Linked DNA regions of Homo sapiens. The protein of the gene in region 2 purifies or fractionates together with the protein of the main gene of each other region. This does not show direct contact. Each region holds a gene or a part of one and is shown on either strand. Other genes may lie near its edges. The genes, in order: TESC, INSL4, HMGCS1 and SGSH.

Region 1 (5,811 bases), on a different chromosome or scaffold from region 2:
CTCCAAAACAGCTCTTCAGGCATGTCTATGTTGATGCCAAGAAGCTGCCAGAAGGAAAAGGAAAAAAAAAAAAAAAATCTCCAGACCTAGAGTTCAGACCTCATGATGGTAAGAGCTAATGTTTCTCGGGCGCGTGGCATCTGCCACACGTTCAGCTGAGCCAGGCAGCGTATCCGCAGTAGCTGATGGAATCCTCCCAGGAACACGGTTGGTTTCCCATTTTACAGATGCAGACATTGAGGCTCAAGAGAGGAGGTGCCTGCCCAAGGCCACAGGCATCATAATGAGAAGTAGAGTCGCAGGCTGGTGCGGTGGCTCATGCTTGTAATCCCAGCACTTTGGGAGGCCAAGGCAGGGGGTTCGCCTGAGCCCAGGAGTTGGTGCCACTGCACTCCAGCTTGGGTGACAGTGCGAGACTGTCTCCAAAGAAAAAAAGAGAGTCGGATTCCATTCCTGGTCTAATCTCATTTGGAGAAGGAGCTAGAGATGGCAGGGAGGACTGGCGTAGCCAAGCGTGGCTGGTGGGGGTGGCGCTGGTTTCTCCACTGCGTTCTCGCCCCTGGGTAATACTTCTTGGTTCTAAAGTCTTTAAGTGGCCTCAGACGGTGGCCTCGGCTCATTCACCAATTGCCATATTCTGCTACCAGGGTGGACCAGATGCGGTCCCTGCCCTCCAGAAGCTCAGGGGTTCCAGGGGGACAGGGGAGCACCCCAACAACTGTAGCATAGCGGGAGGAAGGGTCTGATGGGCCAGGGTGGACCAGCCAGCTCCACACTGTTCTGTCGTCCGCCAAAGCTTGGTAAGCTGAACAGCCAACCAGCCAGTCCCCCGTGCCTTTTCTCTTCCTCTGGGCTAGGTTGTGGCTTTTCCCCTGGCATCTTCAGGGAGTCCATGAACCCCATGAAATAGGATGTGGAATTGTCTGAGTGCCTCTGGGGAGGGCCCTCTGCCCTTGTTAGGGTCTCTGAACAGTGAAGTGTTTTCCATTGTATGGAAATCATGCCTCAGTAAGAAAATGATTCAAACAATTACTTTTATTGATTGTTTAAAATTAATTTGTTTTTGAGATGGCCCTGCTCTGTTGCCCAGGCTGGAGCATAGTGGTGCAATCACAGTTCACTGCAGCCTCTAACTCCAAGGCTCAAGTGATCCTCCCACCTCAGGCTCCCTCCTCAGACAGTGGCTCCTCAGCAGAGGAGGAATGAATGTGTCCGTGAAACCAGGGGGAAGGACCAGTCCTGTATGCTGAGCTCTGGGGCGGGGGGAGACCCTGGCCTGGAGTCATCCACAAAGTGGTCCAGATCATGGGACCCCCCCAGCCTCTGGAACCCTTTCTGCCTTGACTGGATGGGGGCTTCCAGGCCTCCCCTGCCCTCCTCTCTGGGGGCTCACAGGGGAAACTTGCAGGAGAATGCCCGCTGTGGAAGCTTCCCACAGGGCTGGGGATCAACCAAAGGCACCTGCCTGCTCTAGCCCATGCTGGTATTTTTCATTCTGTTCACCTGGGCCCCATCATCTCACCATCTGTCGCAGCCACAGAGCGGGACCCTGGAGGATGGCGTTCCATGTGCACTGAGCTCGGTGCTGGAGCCGTCCTGTGCCACTTCGCTCAGATGTCTCATCCAGGCTGTGTCCTTCTTTGAGCCACCAGTTCCGCTCCTTAAAAAACGCAGCCAGCTGTGAATGAGGTGACAGCTGCTCTTTCTTGAGCACTTGTCAATCATCTGATCTGCCGAAAAGCCCTTTGAGGGTGGGACTATTGCTGCCAGTTTATAGATGGGCAAACTGAGGTTTGGACAGAGGAAATGACTGCCCAAGATCACTTAGTTGCTGGGTAGGGAATCCAGACTCAAAACCAGGCCTTCTAGTGGGATTTGCCAAGTGCAGTGCCGGGAGAAACCGCCTCTCCCGCATGCCGAGAACCCCACATGCTCTGGACTGAGACTCTGAGAGTCGGCACATCTGTGTGATCTGGGGGAGGCCATGCTGTTACCCCACAACCTCGTCAGTAGAGTTCCACACATTGTTTACCAAGTCGGCAAGGGGAGAACTGAACCTTGAGGCAGATAGGATTGGTTCTGGGTGATGTGGAAAGTTCTGGAATCTAGGTGGGTTGCCCCCAGGGAGAACAAGCTCAGTAGTGGGCAGTGGGAGGGGAGTGGGGACCACGGCTGGGAGGAAGAGGCAGGAGGGTGCCGCCCCCTCTGTTTCCTAGGGTCTCACTGGGTGGCTCAGGTCTGTTTCAAAAGAATTTGTGTTTTCTCTGTGCAAGCCACTGGCAGTCCTCTCCAAGACGTCCTCGCTCCGCAGATTGGTGGTAATTAGATCCCCGCTGCATCTTTCTTTCTTGCCTCCCCTACTGCCATCCTGGCAGGATATTTTTTTGTGAGTTAATGGTCTCCAGAATGTATCGTGGAAATTTAATCAACTCTCAGACATGCCATACGGCCCAGTAAGACAAACAGAATAACCTGGGTGTTGATAAGATGCTCTTCCCTTTGCAAAGCACTTTAGGATCTGTTATCTCGAGCTGAGGGAATGAGGTGTTTTCAGCTCAGAAGGGCTCACAGTTCTGGGAAGAAAACTCAGGGCCTCTTTTGTTCTTTTGTCCATGCTGGTGTGACTGTACAGGGTGAGGGCCTGGGCACCCCTGGTCCTGCCAGCCTTCCTGTTGCCTGCTCCAGCTTAATTATTAATTTATAAAACCAGAAGGTCGAGTGGGTGATTTCCGCTGGTGGTGGTGGCCACGGAGCACTAGGACAAAAAGGCTCTTTGTCGTCCCAGCAGTGTGACCTTTGCAGACCGGCACTCTGTCAGGAGCAAGCCTTCCGTTCTTGGCACTGCTCCCTGGCAGGTTAGTGGAGGTCTCAGGGCCCAGGTGCCTCCAGGAGGAGGGCAGGTGGCCAGGCCGGAGACAGCAGTCCTCAAAGGGGGGCTGTAGAGGCCAAAGGTGGGCTGCAGAGGCCAGCTTGCCCCAGGTGCTGAGGTTGGAAGAGGGTTCCCTAAGCTCCTCCTGAGCACCTGTGCCAGAATCCCAATGATCAGAGAACCCTGAGCAAATACCCAGCACTTTGCAGGCCTCACCCACCTGGTAGTTCTAAGGGGGTTCTTGCCCTTGCCTGCATCCCCCCAAGGACCTCAGCCAGAGTCCCACTATGGCACACAGGTGGCTTCTCACCACCTGTCCTTTTCCAGCAGATAGATGTGGGTTTATATCATGGTATTGCCTCTTACTGTCTAGGCAAAGCACTTTGCCTCCCTGAGCCTCAGTTTCTTCATCTGTAAAATGACAGCAAAAATAGAACCTGTTTCACTGAATGTTGCGAGGATTAAGTTAGAATTTGGGCAAAGCTCTTGACCCATCCTCAGTGCTTGAGAGTTACTGGCAGTTACTAATCATTTCAACTGGGAACACTTCAGGAGCTGGCTATGTATCTCCTTTTAAAAGGCATGCTATAACTTTTTTTAGTAATTCATTTCATTTTTTATATGTCTGCTATCTTGGACATGCCTAAACTTAATCACCATCTCTGCCCTTGTGCTCATAATTGGGGACCTTAATGTACTTTAATTTGTATCACTCCATAGTACTTAAGAACCTACATATTCATTATTATTCTATGCAGACACTATTAATTCTTGCAACCACTCTTCCTTATGGATATAGTTTTCTTATTTAATGCATGTTTCTGTAGATTTTTCAGTGAGGCTCTGTGAGTTGTAAACTTTGGAAATATTGTTATTTTGCAGGCATGCATGAATGAACATTTGGCTGTGTGTAAAATATAAGGTTGCTGGATTTTTTTTTTTTCAGCGATTCGTTTTTGGTCTTGTTGCTGTTGAGAAATCAGCTGTTAGTCTAATCGACATTTCTTTGTAGAAACCTATTTTCCCTTTTCCCTGTTTTAAAATTTTTGTCATTGGTGTTTTGTACATGCTATGTCTGGGTGTGGATTTATTTTTATTTATCCTGGGAATGGTTTATGTTGTTTGATTCTAAAGAAAGATCATATCTTCCATTATGAAAATATTATCTCTCCCCTTTCTCTTTATCTTCTTCATTAGTAATTCCTATTAGACAAATGTTGGTTCATCTCATTCTGTCTGCATGCCTCTTAATCTTTCTTTCATATTTTCTTTTTATTTCAGCTGGGTCATTTCCTTAGATCCATCTTCCAGTTCACTAATTCTCTCTTCAGCTATTACAACCTTGCTGCCTTAACCTATTAAATTTCAAAAAATTGCAATGACTTATAAAAAAAGTTTATAAGTGCTATATAGTTTTCAAATTCACCTCTTTTTCATAGGGTATGGTTCTTCCATTGTTTGTAATAATTTAAAGCCTACTATATAGTCTCTTCTGTTTTGCCTTCTTGGAGTGCTATTCCTTTTGTTAATTGTGTCTGCTGTTCTCCCTTATGGTGGTTCATTTGCTTGTATGGTTTGGTTTTTTGATTATAAGCTCATCTTTGGGCTTTTTCCCAACTCCCCTTGGCCCTTCCCCCTACCACCCCACAGGATTCCTGTGTGCCCTGGGTTTTAGAAGAGCCTTACACAGTGCATTTGCATTTCTTGTGCTAGGTGTCTCAAGCTTTTCACCAGTCTGAAAACACTTTTCACATTAACTCCTTGGTTTGGGTCTCCTGCCCCACAGAGACTTGGATTTTTCACCAGTGTGTGGCTCAGTCTTGGAGTTTGGATTCATTGCAGAAGCCTGCTCTTTCCCCTGCCGTCTCCCTAGCAGAGATGGCTGTCTTATTATTCTCTGGGCCAGTGGGGAACGTTTTTTCTGACCCACCTGATGTGCAGAGGCAGCCTTTTGTATTTCAGCTTTTTAGAGGGGTCTCAGCTCCAGTTCATGCAGACCCAAGGCCTCTTCTGTCACTCAGTGGACTTGAAGTCCCCACCCTTAGCTGTTGGAGCCTGAAACCATTCTAACACCTGGGCCACCTCAGCAGCATCTGTCACTAACCCTGCTGGTTCCTGGTCTCTTCCTTGCCCCTGGCACTTGGGTATTGCCCTTTCCTTCCATTTAGCTGGACATTACATTTGTTTCTTGTTTTATCCAGTGTTTGTAATGGAAGGTAGAATCTGTATTATATCCAAGTAGCAGGACCTGAAATTCCTGATCTAAGTGTCCTACTGAAGTAAGCCTTGTACATTTTTTTTTTTTTTTTGAGACAGAGTCTCACTCTGTCGCCCAGGCTGGGGTGCAGTGGCACAATCTCGGCTCACTGCCACCTCCGCCTCCCAGGTTCAAGTGATTCTTGTGCCTCAGCCTCCTGAGTAGCTGGGATTACAGGCATGCGCCGCCACGCCCAGCTAATTTTTGTATTTTTAGTAGAGACGGGGTTTTGCCATGTTGGCCAGGCTGGTCTCAAACTCCTGGCCTCCAGTGATGCACCCGCCTCAGTCTCCCAAAGCGCTGGGATTACAGGCATGAGCCACTGTGCCCGGCCAACCTTGTACTTTAGATAAGCCTGTTTATGCTTGATTTGGCCTCAGGATAAATCTGGAACTGAAGATAGTTCTGGAAGGCTGTGAAAACCTGTTTCTTAGATGCTCTGAAAGACACCCACTCGCCCACTCTCAAAATCTTTCCTGATTCACTGTTGCTTTTTTCCCCCTTCATCATCTTTAGTCTTTTTATTAAAATGGAGAAATTTTTCTCTAATTACATAAATGATATGTATTTATTGTTCCATCCCTCCTCAGTTTGGGCATACAGCCTAGCCAATGGCTATGCAAATAGAATCTAAAGTCATGGACCTCGGTCTAAATCCCAGTTCTGCTGCTCCTAGCTGTGTGAC
Region 2 (6,308 bases):
TTGATCAACCGCAGGTGCATAATTGCTCTCTACTCGGGAGGGTGGCAATGTCTACACTCTATTGGGCTCATATCTTAGATCCACTTTTCTTTTGCCCTGTCACTTGGGTATACAACCCCTTCCCAGCCTTTAATAACGTGACTGCTTAGCTAGGAGGGATAGATTTACCCCCAGTGGGGTTCCTCAATAATGGCACACATTGGACTAAGGTGCCAGATAACACTACAGATCACTCTACTATCCTCCCATTGTGTGTAAATTATAAATGTTCTAACCCTTAGTGTGCACCTACTGAAACACAATTATGGCTACATCATGGCAAAAGAAGTGCCTTAACAGTCTTAGCTGCAGGTAGCCTCAAAACGGAAATCAAGTCTGCTTTCCCAAACATTCCTTCCTGTGCTAAAGAACAAAGCCGGAAAAATAACGGATTCCACTTTAGCTGGGAGATCTGTCATGGGGAATAAGCTCATAGCCTCCAGTTAGGCAATTATAACATCCTAGACTGGAGCCCCTGTGGCCATTTGTAGGGCAGCCTTACTGATATCCTCATCCATCATGGCATCGATCACAGTTTCATAGCCTCGTCCCATTCCCTTATGATTTGGGCCGATGGGAGGATAGGATATCCCAGACCCCGAGTAAAGTTGATGCCTCCCCAAGACACTTTATGTTGCCTGGGACATCTTAGCACCTCCCTTGACACCTGGCATGGGACATATCATAATTACAGTAACAACTATACTATAACCTTTATTCATAATCACACTGATCAGTCCCTAATTTGCAACTCCATCCATATGTTTTCCTTATGGGAACTAATATTTCTATTACAACCCAAAATTCCATGTTTGTGACCCGGGTGCAAGGACAGGCTTTGTTTGCCTCATGTACCACTAATTACAATATATCTAATTTAAATACTACTAGTGTCATGGTATTAAGGAGACAATCTGAGGCATTCCTACCCGTCAATTTGACACACTATTGGCAAGGTTCCTCTTCCTTTGCCACCTTAGAATGTGCCCTATCCCAGGTCAGACCCAAAAGATTTATAGGCACACTTATAACCTTTATAGTCTCAGCCATAGTCATCCTAGCAACTGCTAGTGTGGCTATAGCATCTACTACCGAATCAGTGCAAACAGCTGCTTTTGTAGACAATTTGGCCAGAAATGTGTCTAATGAACTTCTCTTACAGCAGGGTATAGATCAAGAGATTCTTGCACGTCTGCAAGCCCTCGAGGCTGCCTTGGAATTTGTGGGGGAGCGACAAGATGCCCTAGCATTCTGATAGCAATTAAACTGTGACTGGGAGCATAAACATATCTGTGTCACATTTTTACCTTGGAATCAATCAATACATAGTTGGGATGAGGTGAAACAACACCTCTGGGGAAACTTTCATGACAATTTAACAGCAGACGTAAAGCAACTTAAAACTAAAATTTTAGAATCCCTTCACATGATAGATCTACATACTCAACAAACAGCCATATGGAAAGGTGTGCAAGATCATTTCTCCTGGTTATACCCCCGATCCTGGGGGTCACACTTTGACTGGAAAGGAATGTTACTAATTATACTCATGATTGTCTTACGTTATTTGCTAATTCTATGATGCAAAGCCGGAATAAAAGCAAAACCTAACAAACCTGTTGCTGCACACATCTGTACTCTTAAGTCAACAGAACCCGATGCAAAGAACAGAAAGGGGGGAGATGTGAGAGTTCAGTCAGGCTGGTGGGAAAATTTTTTCAGATAGTTATAAGAAAAAGACGCAAACCTTTTTGAAACGCCGGAGGGGTTTGTATAAGCTCCAGTAATAGATCAGGCTGAAGGCAGCCTAATCCTTACCTTGAGTTAATAGCTTAAGGCACAGATACAAATGAATGTAGTTTATCTAGTTTGTTTACTCATGTGGTCCTAAGACTAATCTTTGATCAACCGCGGGTGCATAATTGCTCTCTACTCGGGAGGTTGGCAATGTCAATTACCTTCTAGTGGTGTTTACTCAAGACCTTCGTCATTTAATCTATGCTGAATAAATGTGAGCTTTGCTGGCTGATCGGGGCCACGGCTGCAACTCTTTACAGCACCCTCCTTGGTGTCTGTAGGTGGCCCGGACCCTCAGCTGGACTGACAGGCAAACTATCTGTGTCAGTGTATGTTATTCATCCGTCGTTGGGTCAGGGTCTGTGGGACAGACCCCCGCAATTAAAAGCTTATATGCCAAATGTTAACTAAGATAATTTCTAGCCAATGAGCTTACAGGTCAGTTCTATTTTTATTTCATCTAAGCAAAGGACATTAAAAATTACCATTATTTTAGTAAGCATAAAAATAGTATTACAGGAGGAAAGTTAAGAAAAAGAAGTAGAACAACCAAATTCAAAACAAGCAAAGTGCAGCAGCACATTGGGAGCAAAGAGGGATATGAGAGTGTGGGTAGGGCAAGTAGGGAGACTAAATAAGAACTGAGGGAGAAAGTTCCTTGTAGGTGGGTGGGAAAGGGGTGGAACTGACACCATTGACGCAAAAGCTGAGTAATAGCCCTAAGCAAATAAATGCCTGATGAAGGCATGCAGAAAGCAGTCTGGAGCCCAGAAGGGACACACCAGCACAGTCTGGTAGGCTACAGCAGCAAGTCTCTAAAGAAAGGCTGAGAACACCCAGAACAGGAGAGTTCAGGTCCAGGATGGCCAGCCTGTTCCGGTCCTATCTGCCAGCAATCTGGCTGCTGCTGAGCCAACTCCTTAGAGAAAGCCTAGCAGCAGAGCTGAGGGGATGTGGTCCCCGATTTGGAAAACACTTGCTGTCATATTGCCCCATGCCTGAGAAGACATTCACCACCACCCCAGGAGGGTGGCTGCTGGAATCTGGACGTCCCAAAGGTGAGAGCCCTGGACTACCAAACAATCAGAATGAGGCCTGAAAAAACAGGCTCCAGATCTCATTGACTGCCTGTAGTCAACTCAGACTCTACTGTGGCTAGTGCCTACAAGTTTGTGGTTTTTCATTGTAATGTGCTTTTATTAAAAGGGTCTCACCAGAAATCTCATGGGAAGTTGGGGGTAGAGGAGAAGCTGCAGGAAAAACAGAAGAACAGCCTCACCTTGGAGGCTCTTGGTGCCTTTCCCACCTGGCAGCCAGAGATACAGGGTGGAGAAAACAGGGAATCCTCAGAGAAGGTGACTATTCTCAAACACCAGCAGGAGGTGAGGTGTACTCCCAGACCCCCAGGAAAGCTGGGCAGGCCAGAAAACAGGTGTGATTGCAATGAGATGCCTGGGCCAGGCATCTTCAATTAAGAAGAAAGGGGACAAACAGTGAGGTGATGAGCTGATTATCATTTCTGTTTATGCACCTATTGGCCTAGGGGCAGCACACTGAGACCTCTGTTAGGTTCCTGGAATGTGAGATAAAGGGGGCTTAGATTTAATAACTCTCATCCTTTGTCATTAAGCTGGGCAGTGGTCTATGTCACCAAAAACGTCCTCTTACAAAAAAGTTTTTTTTAATGCACACCAACAGAGCACCTTGCCTCCCATTTCTTTGAATCTACTCTTGTAGTGTGTTGAGAGAGATGAGATGAAGAGAAAGAAAGTGGCCTGGATGACTAGAGGGGAAATTGAAGGGGACCAGAGACAAGGGAATTTCACTGTTCAGACCATCATAGCTGATTTGATTAGTGTTTTCAACATTTGAGACTGCAAAGCATTTTCTTTAAAAGCAAGATTTCAGAATTGAGGAAAGTTCAATACCAGGATAGTTTTCAAACTTTACCAAGTAACAAGGTATTCATAAAGATAAATTGCCAGCTAAGTTAAAACTAGCAGGGGCAGTTTCGAAAAGAGATAGAGGCTACTATATTCTGTCTAATAGGTCGTATTAAGTTCTGAAAAGCTAAGTTAAATTACTAAACATTGTTTTACATTTAATACAAATGACACAGGTTTTGAACCAGCAATGTGTGACTCCAGAACTGCTTCTTGTAACCCATATGCATACACTTCATTAAATCATTAAATGACTCTGTTTAAAGTTATCGTGCACAGTGAATGCACTTGGATTTTGTGTGATTTATATAACGATTTCAAAGTTATTTCCTTTTTTTACATTATTAGTCAGAGCTTGTTTCATTTTACTATAAAATAAGGGAAGAATACCACAAAGTCCAAACAATTTCTAATGCAAACTAAGGAAGAGCATGCTGTACTATAATTTCTATTTAAATTTCACTTTTTTTCAGTAAATAAGTGAAAATCCTCATTTAAATACTTTGACAAATATAGATAAATTTAACAAGAAAAATGGAAAGTATTCATGGATAACAAATGTTAACATTTGGTGTCGACACATATAGATGTATGTTGCTTCTCAGCCTTTTAGCTAAGATCCACTGATATAGATGTATAGATTTATGTGGATCAGATTTGAATATCTGAATCTTTCTATTAGAATAACTTGTGATTATAAAAAAAATTCCCTATTGCTATCCAGTACATAATGCATTGAGGTTATCAATCAAAACAGTGTCAGGGAGAGTCAAAAGTGGTATGGTATAGGCATTTAGAGGGTCATTAGAAGAGTGCATAGAGGGGACAGGATGAGGAGTTAGCATATCCTTAATATTGTAGTATCTTAAAGTGCCCTACTCTAAGTAAGCTAAGTTGTTGAAATGTTAGGATACTTGCTGATTCTCTCTGGTGTTTAATTACATGGAGGCAATGGGTACATTGTGGTCTAGGCAAATTGTATAATTTTTCTGATCCTCTTTCACATGAATGTTTTTCCTCACCTTTCATTCCTCTCTTTTACTTCACAGAAATGGTGTCAACCTCCAACAACAAAGATGGACAAGCCTTAGGTACGACATCAGAATTCATTCCTAATTTGTCACCAGAGCTGAAGAAACCACTGTCTGAAGGGCAGCCATCATTGAAGAAAATAATACTTTCCCGCAAAAAGAGAAGTGGACGTCACAGATTTGATCCATTCTGTTGTGAAGTAATTTGTGACGATGGAACTTCAGTTAAATTATGTACATAGTAGAGTAATCATGGACTGGACATCTCATCCATTCTCATATGTATTCTCAATGACAAATTCACTGATGCCCAATTAAATGATTGCTGTTTATTAGAACATGAGAATCATTATTAGTATTCACATGTTTCACTTGCTCTGTACTAATATAGTCTCTCCAAATGGAGGAAGTTAGATAGATGGAATAAGTTCTAGTAGTTGATAGTACAATGGGGAAATTATACTTAACAATAATTCACTGTATATTCCAAAATAGCTAGAAGAGAATTGTAATGATTCCAACACAAAAAAGATGAATGTTAGTTTGGATGCATATCCCAATTACCCTGATTTGATCATTACACATTATATACACGTATCAAAATATCACATGTACTACAAAAATGTGTATAACTGTAATATGTGAACTACAAACTTACTGGAAATAAATTTTTAAAGTTTTACACACATAAACACATACGTTCACACACACTCACTCAAGTCTCTTCATTTTTCCTCTTTTCACACTAGAAGAAATGTAAGAGATAAAGGATCTAACCATCTCTAACATCAGCTCATAGTACGGAGGAAAAGCAGTGAAGGAATGAACTGGTGGGAGAGGTATTAGGCATGTTCACCCTAGGGTAAACCCAGAGACCTCCCTAGAACTTTGCCCAATGCATATCCTCCACCTGCCTCTCAGCACGCTGCCTTTAGACCTTCAATCATTCTATAAACTCCTCTTTTGTCCCTGGCATTACTCCACATCCCCTCATCAAAGTGGTGAATTGGCACAAATACTGGCATTCCTCTGGCTACACATACCTCCTCCCTATGTGTCTCTAAATCCTAAATCAAAGAGTACATTTTATACTCTGTCAGTGAGGTTCTACTAGTTGTGTTTGTTTGTTTGCAGGCTAACTGAAGCTGCTACTACCTCATTATCAGGTCCTATAAACTTAATTCAAGTGGCATGATTTGAGTAGCCCCCTGTGCCTGCCCATAAAGTGCTCTGAATCTAGTGTGGGACATGGAGAAGCAAAGGATAATAAGTGCAATGATACTTGTAGGTCATCATAGAGACTGTAATGATCCACAGGAATCAGGGTCGTGTTTAATGCCAACATGTGAAAGAATAAATATACAGGGAACAGTGTAGGTAAGAGGAGAGAGCAAAATTTCCCTAAGGAAACTGATGGCTGATCTGCATCTTGAAAGACATCTAAGCAGAAGAGAGTGCAAAAAGGGACAAGTAGAAGCCCAGGAAAATGCACAAAGGC
Region 3 (5,811 bases), on a different chromosome or scaffold from region 2:
TGTATTTAATCTTCATAGCAGTTTTATGAGGTAGGTGGTGTCATCCCCACTTTACAGAGAAGTGGGTTAATGTAGGGTTCAAATGATAAATAGTAACTTGCTGATAGTCACTGGCAATTTTAATTTGTCTTCAGTGTAGTAGAGTAACTGTGAACTGTTAGAGTTATGAAACTGACATGGAAAGTTGTATACCAAAGGAGTCTTAGGACTGTCCATGGATACTGTTATGTATCATTTCACTTATATTGGCTTCAGCTTGCGATTTCTCTACTGTAAGTGGTGAGAATTGATCAGATAGTTAAGGAAGGTCCTTAGATAATGCAGTATACTTATTAACATACAGACATCAAGAAGCAGAAATATATAGACATCTTCCTTTTTGGTTCTAATAGGGCTTCGTGGGACACATATGCAACATGCCTATGATTTTTACAAGCCTGATATGCTATCTGAATATCCTATAGTAGATGGAAAACTCTCCATACAGTGCTACCTCAGTGCATTAGACCGCTGCTATTCTGTCTACTGCAAAAAGATCCATGCCCAGTGGCAGAAAGGTAAGTTTTACCCATTTTCCTTGGTTTTGGTATGAGTTGAGAGCAGTCTAATGTACTAGGTATCTTTGGTAGGCAACTACTTTGTGGGCATTCTTCATTTAATATCCTTTTACCATTAATTCCTCATTCACCAAACAACATTTTCCCATAGTTTCTGGGAAAGTGTAATTTACTAGAAGAGGTAAACTTTGGAACTGAGGTGTATCTCTGCAAAAATATTTAGGTCGGTTTACCCCTTGTAAGAAAATCAAAGTGGAGAAAAGAAGGTAAGTTGAATTTTGTTCATCTTTTGAGAGAGGTATTTTAACAAGGTTTTGGACTACAGCTGTGATTCAGGGAAAGCTAATGAAAATGAATTACTAAAGTGATCTTACCCCAAAAATAATCTTTTTGCACTTGACCTGTGAATTTGTATTTGTTTTTTTACTGTTATCATTAATCTGGAAATTTGTTGAGGCACTGAAAGGACAGTATTTGAGTTAATGCTATCATAACACATTATTACATAAAGTATACTTTTTCTGTAGTCCAACTTTGCTTTTTAGAGGTTATGAGAAGGGGTTAAAAATCATATTCAATGACAAATATCAGTGAATTTAGTCGCTCTGGATAAGAAGCATTCTTGCAGTATATATTAACAGAATAGTGGTTTTCTAACTTTTTTATTAGGACCCACAGTAAGAAGTACATGTTACATTGTATGTGTATGCCAGACTGAAACAAAAATGTCATGACATTACTTACCCTTGCTGCAAGTTATTCAGTTTGCTATTTTTCTACTGCATTTTGTTTTTTAAAATACTCTTTTATTTAAAAAAAATACTAATCCTGACCCACTAAATTGATTATGTAACCTGCTAATGTGTATGAATCTTAAATTTGAAAATTAGTGACATAGTACATATTGTTTCATCTTTGAGTGTCTTTTTAAATGTATACTTTAAGGTATAGAGAGGTTTCATTATACAGTGTATTTGTGGTTGCTGTTTAAACATATACAAATATCCTAGCTTTATTCTAAAGTCAAACTTTAAAATTTCATGGCTTATATGAATTTCATAGTTTCCTTGGACTTCTCTTTCAGAGGGAAATGATAAAGATTTTACCTTGAATGATTTTGGCTTCATGATCTTTCACTCACCATATTGTAAACTGGTTCAGAAATCTCTAGCTCGGATGTTGCTGAATGACTTCCTTAATGACCAGAATAGAGATAAAAATAGTATCTATAGTGGCCTGGAAGCCTTTGGGTAAGAGGAGCTATTATGAGTTTTTTCCTTCTATATTAGAGCATTTTTAATATCTGTTAAGCTGTTATTTGTACAGACCTGAGAAATTGAGAGTCAGAAGAATCTTAGAAGTCATCCAGTCTAATCTGTGTGTCTCAGTCAGTGAAGAATCTAAGTCCAGAGAGGTGGTAGTTAACATGCACAAATTCTTTAGACATTTCTATTCAGATTTTCTGATTTATTTCTTTCAGCTCCATTCATGTTGTCACGATAAAGTAACTGCACAAGGGCCTATATTCACTACAGCAGCCTCTTAACTCCTTACCTCTCTCAGCACCCCTGCCCCCATGCCCTTTTCCATCCTGCACACTGCCACAGCTAAAGTCAGCTTTTGTACTCCACCTGTCTTTTTCTCACTTTAGGCTCCCTAGCATGCTATGTGTGTTCAACTCGTTCTGTTTCTCCCTGTGTCTCTTGTGTGTCCTTTCTCTATCTGATAAAATTATACTTGACTTTTAAAACTTGGCTCCTGTAATACCATGACTTTTCTAACTAAATAAACATTATTATGGACTTGAAATAGTATTCTATTCAGTTGATGAATATTCAGTTGATTGAATATTCTATTCATTGAAGCCAATATAAGTGAATATAAATATAAAGCTACAGTGCGTCTTTTAACCTATTCAAATCAAGCAGGCTTAACTTGATTATGAAAACTTTTGAGAAAAAGAACCATATATATACAACTGTTATGATTTCTATAGCAATTAGATTGCTGCTACTTGGCTTTTAATAAATGAGAAAACAATTATATACACTTAAAGATTTGAATCCTAATTAGGCCTGCTGTTTAGTGTAATAAAAACATAGGCTTTAAACACTGTAAAACTGTAAAATAAATCTTTCAGGGATGTTAAATTAGAAGACACCTACTTTGATAGAGATGTGGAGAAGGCATTTATGAAGGCTAGCTCTGAACTCTTCAGTCAGAAAACAAAGGCATCTTTACTTGTATCAAATCAAAATGGAAATATGTACACATCTTCAGTATATGGTTCCCTTGCATCTGTTCTAGCACAGTAAGTATAAATTTCACCTACTACTTAACTCCCCTTATTTGGGAGATGTTAGATTTCTAAGACCAAATCTAGTGTCAAGCATGTTGGTGGTAGATCACAGAAAATTTTATCTTGAGGCTCTCTAATCTGCTATTGTCCATTGACTTGAAAGATGTATGGGTTGAGGCTACAGTTCTTCCAGAAGTATTTGTTAATTTCATACTGGCTTTCCTGGCTTCTGTTTTCATGGTTTTTTAATTCTTGACCTACAGTTGAACCATAAATACCTGGTTGATGAAGTAACTTGTTTTGTGGCATGACTTTCACAAGCTCTGTCATTCCCCACAAGATGAAAACTCACATGCTGCAATATTAAAACTAAGTTATATTCCCTACTGCAATATTAACACTTTGAGTTAGATCCTTAAAACTTTAAGTTAGATTCTACTTTTACTTATAGCCTAAATTTTTATTGCTACTTTTATAGCTTCCCACACGCTGTAGCTTTGGATCAGTTAAACTTCTGAACTATTGTTACACCCTACATAGGTACTCACCTCAGCAATTAGCAGGGAAGAGAATTGGAGTGTTTTCTTATGGTTCTGGTTTGGCTGCCACTCTGTACTCTCTTAAAGTCACACAAGATGCTACACCGGGTAAGTGCTGAATCTTTCAACAAGAATGTATTGAGAACTGAGTCCAGGCACAGTGGCTCACACCCGTAATCCCAGCAGTTTGGGAGGCCGAGGCGGGCAGATCACCTGAGGTCAGGAGTTCGAGACCAGTCTGGCTAACATGGCTGAAACCCCATCTCTACTAAAAATACAAAAATTAGCCAGGTGAGGTGGTGCATGCCTGTAGTCCTAGCTACTTGGGAGGCTGAAGTAGGAGAATCACTTGAATCCAGGAGAGGGAGGTTGTGGTGAGCCAAGATCACACCACTGTGCTCCAGCCTGGGTGACAGAGCGAGACTCTGTCAAAAAAAAAAAAAAAAAATGTATTGAGAACTACTCTGGGGAAGTTGATTTAGCAGTCTTCTCAAGTGAGCACCTGAATCTGTCCCACAGATCATTACAATATTTTAGTCTTCATTACTTCTTTCAGTAGGTTTTTACTCTCTGCCCTAAAAATCTATCCAAAAAAAAAAAAAAAATTCTACCTTATCTGGATAAAGGATAGGACTAAGTTATCTAATTTTTATAGGCTTATGGTCTTGGCTATATTTAAGGTCACTTTTGTGCTTTCCCTGAGCAGGAAAGAGCAAAAATGTAGAGATAAACTGATGAAAACTTGACATTACTTTTTAAAATTATACCATGGGCCAGGTGCAATGGCTCACACCTATAATCCCAACACTTCAGGAGGCTGAGGTGGGAGGATTGCTTGAGGCCAGATGTTCAAGGCCAACCTGAGCAACATAGTGAGACCCCATCTCTATAAAAAATAATAAAAATAAAATAATTGTACCATGGATTAATTGTAGACAAGTTATTTATAGTTTCAAATTATGCCTGTTTCCTAACTTGTCTAGTGGCAGATACTCAATAATAGATTTCTAGTCTGACATCATAGGAGATTTGTCAAATAGGTATCATCTTATCTTTTAACTAATCAGTAGCCAGTAGTTTTAATGAAAATGAAAAGTTGTTTTGCCTCATTTGGCAACATTTTACTTAGGCTTCTTTTGGACATGATTTTTCAAAAAAATCTTTTAATGTTGAATTATTCACTATTTTAGGGTCTGCTCTTGATAAAATAACAGCAAGTTTATGTGATCTTAAATCAAGGCTTGATTCAAGAACTGGTGTGGCACCAGATGTCTTCGCTGAAAACATGAAGCTCAGAGAGGACACCCATCATTTGGGTAAAAATATTAAATGTTCTTTAAGTTAACCCATTTGGAGGGCTGATATCATTAAGGATGCTACATATACGATAAGGATATCAAGACTTTACTCAGTACTAATCTGATGTCAGTGAAAATTATTGGGATATATGAAACTTATCTTTAGCTTTATTACCAGATGAATTGTATATCATAACTAATTGTAGATATTCTCTCCCTTTCCTTTAGTCAACTATATTCCCCAGGGTTCAATAGATTCACTCTTTGAAGGAACGTGGTACTTAGTTAGGGTGGATGAAAAGCACAGAAGAACTTACGCTCGGCGTCCCACTCCAAATGATGACACTTTGGATGAAGGAGTAGGACTTGTGCATTCAAACATAGCAACTGAGGTAAATAAAAGAGTTCCCATCTCCATATCTTAGGGTTTAGGAGACCTAACTGGGATTTAGCAACATAAATAAATGTCAGTAAAGAAGAGTAAGGGCTCTGGGAGTAGATTCTAGCTGTACTATTTCCAATTGTATAAAGTGCTTTGCATTTGAATTATTAATATTTTAAGAATATACAGTAAAGGCCGGGTGCGGTGGCTCACGCCTGTAATCCCAGCACTTTGGGAGACTGAGGCAGGCAGATCACGAGGTCAGGAGATCAAGACCATCCTGTCCAACATGGTGAAACCCTGTCTCTACTAAAAATACAAAAATTAGTTGGGCTTGGTGGCACGTGCCTGTAATTCCAGCTACTCAGGAGGCTGAGTCAGGAGAATGGCTTGAACCAGGGAGTCAGAGGTTGCAGTAAGCTGAGATCACACCACTGCACTCCAGCCTGGCGACAGAGCAAGATTCCATCTCAAAAAAAAAAAAAAAAAAAAAAAAGAATATACAGTAAATACTAGGTTTTATTAATGATACCAGGATTTAAAGGAAGACTGATATAGAGAGAAGGTTCATTTGTGGTGTGTGTCTTTGTGAGAGATGGAGTAGAGGGACAAGGATCCTTTCACATCTCATCCCAGATCATGGTCAAAATCTGTCCTCAAATTGTCAAGAAGTAACAATCATAGCTATGATTTGAATTCCTGTTACCTGCTAGGCACTTTACTTACGTTTTCTTAT
Region 4 (3,500 bases), on a different chromosome or scaffold from region 2:
AGTACACCACCGTCGGCCGCATGGACCAAGGTGGGCTTGCAGAACCGGGCACTGGAGGGGGTGCCACGGCCGGGGTCCCCCATCCTGGGCCAGCGCCCTCTTAGGTCACGGCATAATGTGGGTGAGGGTCCCAGTGTGGCAGGCCCTGTGCTGCAGCTGGCAGAGCCCACATTGAGAGGAGGGGCCTGTGGGTGGCATCAGGACCCAACCCCGGGGCTGCCCTGATGTGGACCTGCTCCTGGGCTGGGGCCTTCGGGTGCCCCAGAGGTTGCGTGAAGACTTCAGATATTTCCAGTCACAGGACCTGGGTCAGATTTGGGGGTTTGGAGTTCCTTAGCATATGCAGATGGAGATCTTGAGGTCTGTGAGTTTTTTGTGGTTGATGGCTTACAGCAACCAAAATTTGTACTCCCACAGTTCAGGAGGCCAGAAGTTTGAAATCAAGGTGTCAGCAGGGCCATGCTCCCCTGAAGGCCTAGGGGAGACCCTGCCTTTCCTCTTCCAACTTCTGGGGGCTGTGCCAGTGCTGGGCGTTCCTGGGCTGGCGGCAGAATCGCCCCCATCCCCGCTGAAGCCTTCACATGGCCTTTTTTCCTGTGTCTCCTCTTTGTGTCTCCACTTCTTCTTTTTTTTTTTTTTTGAGACTGAGTCTTGCTCTGTCACCCACGCGGGAGTGCAGTGGCGCAATCTCGGCTCACTACAACCACCACCTCCCAGGTTCGAGCGATTTTTCTGTCTCAGCCTCCAAAGTAGCTAGGACTGCAATCGCACCGCACGCCACCATGCCCAGCTAATTTTTATATTTTTAGTAGAGACGGGGTTTCACCACATTGGCCAGGCTGGTCTTGAACTCCTGACCTCGTGATCCGCCCACCTCAGCCTCCCAAAGTGCTGGGATTACAGGTGTGAGGCACCGCGCCCGGCCTGTTTCCGCTTCTTATAAGGACCCCGTCGGGTTTAGGGCCTACCTGAGCACTTCAGGATGATTTTGTCCCAAGATCTTTATTCGTGAAGTTCCCCTTTCCAAACAAGAACCCCTTCACAGATTCCAGCACACATGTCTTTTGGGGTCAGGGACGACAGGAGGTCAGGACCTTTGCCATTTCCCTATTGGTGCCATTAATTCTTAGTGAGCTGGGAAGGAGCGGGTATAGAGGAAGCCTTGTCCTCTGGCCCCAGCTGGGAAGGAGCGAGTATAGAGGAAGCCTCGTCCTCTGGCCCCTGCCCTATTTGCTCCATGGGACAGACACGAGATTCCGGAGAACTCAAAAGCCGGCGGGCACCAGGGAGCAGCTGCCTGGGGGTGACACAGAAGTGCCAAGGGATGGCTGGAGTCCCTGGAGGCCCATTCGAGGCCTGCTCAGGGAATGGGAGCTGGGCGGAGCTGGGCAAGAGCTGGGCAAGAGCCAGGGCCATTGGGAAGAACTACAGGGTGCTTTCGAATCCGGAAAGCGCTGGAGCCCAGCGGCCGGATGCAGCAGCAGGTGGGTCTACACACACCACCCGCTGCCTCCCTCCGTGTCTGCGGCTGAGCTCTGCTTCTCGGCCCCTCACCACAGGAGTTGGACTGGTGCTCCAGGAGCTGCGTGACGCCGGTGTCCTGAACGACACACTGGTGATCTTCACGTCCGACAACGGGATCCCCTTCCCCAGCGGCAGGACCAACCTGTACTGGCCGGGCACTGCTGAACCCTTACTGGTGTCATCCCCGGAGCACCCAAAACGCTGGGGCCAAGTCAGCGAGGCCTACGTGAGCCTCCTAGGTATGCCTTTGTCTGTCTCCGTCAGGAAAGGTGTGGGAGTGGATCTGGGACGGGGCCATGACCTGTCAGATGCTGCTCCACACCCATTACCTAATGTGGCTCTCATATCATCTGGGTGAGGAAGGGACTGTCACTCCCACTCTACAGAGGAAAAGAATGAGGCTCAGAGAGGTGAAGTAAGCTGCTCAGGATTGCACAGCTGGTAAGCACTAAGCTAGGATTCTCGCCTGGATCCTGCTGCTTTCAAAACCATTGCCTTTTCCCCGCCTACCTCCGATGAGCTTCAGAATCACCTGGGATGCTTGTTAATATCCAAATTGCAAATCCCAGGGTGTCCGATTCAGTAGATCTTGGCGGGCTCAAGAATTTGCATGTCTGACAAGTTCCCAGGTGATGCCGATACTGTGGGCCTGGGGACCCCTCTCTGAGCATCCGTGCACCCCATCCTGCCTTCCTGGGGGACCCAAAGCACCTCATGACCCTGCTCATTCCTAAAAAGACCTAGGACATCTAGTCCCATGTTATGGATGTGCAGACAAAGACACGGGTGCAGGAAGACTTTGTGAGGGGCTCGGGGTGACCCCTTCGGCACAGGGCAGAGGCTCGTGTGTCCTGCCCACTGCCTGGCAGAGCCTCCAGGTGGGGTGGGCCCGGGACAGCAGGAAACTCAGGTTCCCTTTCCCTCCGAGCTCGCGGCCCACATCTCTCTTGGGGCCCACATCTCTCTCTGGCCCCAAATGATGAGCCAGGAGCACTGTGGCCACACCCACCACAGGGGCTGGAGTACACGAGCTACCAAAAAGGAGACTTCTTTTCCAGTCCATGGGATTTTAGAAGGATCCTAAATGTCACCGAATCAGGGCCTCTTGTTATACCATTCAAGGCACTGAGGCCCAGAGAGATGACGTGGCGGTGAGAGGTGTCGGCTCGACAAGGCACCTCCCGCTGCTGATTGGATTGGAGAAGGGAGCCGCCCAGAGTGGCGTAGGTTCGGCCCTTCCGAGGGCAGCTCCTGTGTGCTGAGGGCTCTGCTGCTCTGAGATGCCGCGTCCCTTCCAGACCTCACGCCCACCATCTTGGATTGGTTCTCGATCCCGTACCCCAGCTACGCCATCTTTGGCTCGAAGACCATCCACCTCACTGGCCGGTCCCTCCTGCCGGCGCTGGAGGCCGAGCCCCTCTGGGCCACCGTCTTTGGCAGCCAGAGCCACCACGAGGTCACCATGTCCTACCCCATGCGCTCCGTGCAGCACCGGCACTTCCGCCTCGTGCACAACCTCAACTTCAAGATGCCCTTTCCCATCGACCAGGACTTCTACGTCTCACCCACCTTCCAGGACCTCCTGAACCGCACCACAGCTGGTCAGCCCACGGGCTGGTACAAGGACCTCCGTCATTACTACTACCGGGCGCGCTGGGAGCTCTACGACCGGAGCCGGGACCCCCACGAGACCCAGAACCTGGCCACCGACCCGCGCTTTGCTCAGCTTCTGGAGATGCTTCGGGACCAGCTGGCCAAGTGGCAGTGGGAGACCCACGACCCCTGGGTGTGCGCCCCCGACGGCGTCCTGGAGGAGAAGCTCTCTCCCCAGTGCCAGCCCCTCCACAATGAGCTGTGACCATCCCAGGAGGCCTGTGCACACATCCCAGGCATGTCCCAGACACATCCCACACGTGTCCGTGTGGCCGGCCAGCCTGGGGAGTAGTGGCAACAGCCCTTCCGTCCACACTCCCATC

What was found.
Region 1: the proteins of INSL4 (region 2) and TESC purify together in Homo sapiens (affinity purification with mass spectrometry; one large-scale study listed by BioGRID and IntAct). This does not show direct contact.
Region 3: the proteins of INSL4 (region 2) and HMGCS1 purify together in Homo sapiens (affinity purification with mass spectrometry; one large-scale study listed by BioGRID and IntAct). This does not show direct contact.
Region 4: the proteins of INSL4 (region 2) and SGSH purify together in Homo sapiens (affinity purification with mass spectrometry; one large-scale study listed by BioGRID and IntAct). This does not show direct contact.

Annotation. Positions count from the first base shown.
Region 1 is NC_000012.12:117,088,048-117,093,858, reverse strand, and holds part of TESC (calcineurin B homologous protein 3), read left to right. Parts: intron 1-170; exon of another isoform or gene 171-185; coding exon of another isoform or gene 186-207; intron 208-5,811. UniProt on the Homo sapiens protein: Functions as an integral cofactor in cell pH regulation by controlling plasma membrane-type Na(+)/H(+) exchange activity. Promotes the maturation, transport, cell surface stability and exchange activity of SLC9A1/NHE1 at the plasma membrane.
Region 2 is NC_000009.12:5,228,826-5,235,133, forward strand, and holds the start of INSL4 (early placenta insulin-like peptide precursor), read left to right. Parts: upstream 1-2,593; 5' UTR 2,594-2,698; coding exon 2,699-2,894; intron 2,895-4,828; coding exon 4,829-5,052; 3' UTR 5,053-6,308. UniProt on the Homo sapiens protein: May play an important role in trophoblast development and in the regulation of bone formation.
Region 3 is NC_000005.10:43,291,748-43,297,558, reverse strand, and holds part of HMGCS1 (hydroxymethylglutaryl-CoA synthase, cytoplasmic), read left to right. Parts: intron 1-392; coding exon 393-557; intron 558-1,641; coding exon 1,642-1,807; intron 1,808-2,697; coding exon 2,698-2,868; intron 2,869-3,396; coding exon 3,397-3,503; intron 3,504-4,585; coding exon 4,586-4,711; intron 4,712-4,921; coding exon 4,922-5,085; intron 5,086-5,811. UniProt on the Homo sapiens protein: Catalyzes the condensation of acetyl-CoA with acetoacetyl-CoA to form HMG-CoA, which is converted by HMG-CoA reductase (HMGCR) into mevalonate, a precursor for cholesterol synthesis.
Region 4 is NC_000017.11:80,210,334-80,213,833, reverse strand, and holds part of SGSH (N-sulphoglucosamine sulphohydrolase isoform 1 precursor), read left to right. Parts: coding exon 1-30; intron 31-1,559; coding exon 1,560-1,763; exon of another isoform or gene 1,764-1,910; coding exon of another isoform or gene 1,911-1,965; intron 1,966-2,646; coding exon of another isoform or gene 2,647-2,786; exon of another isoform or gene 2,787-2,822; coding exon 2,823-3,382; 3' UTR 3,383-3,500. UniProt on the Homo sapiens protein: Catalyzes a step in lysosomal heparan sulfate degradation.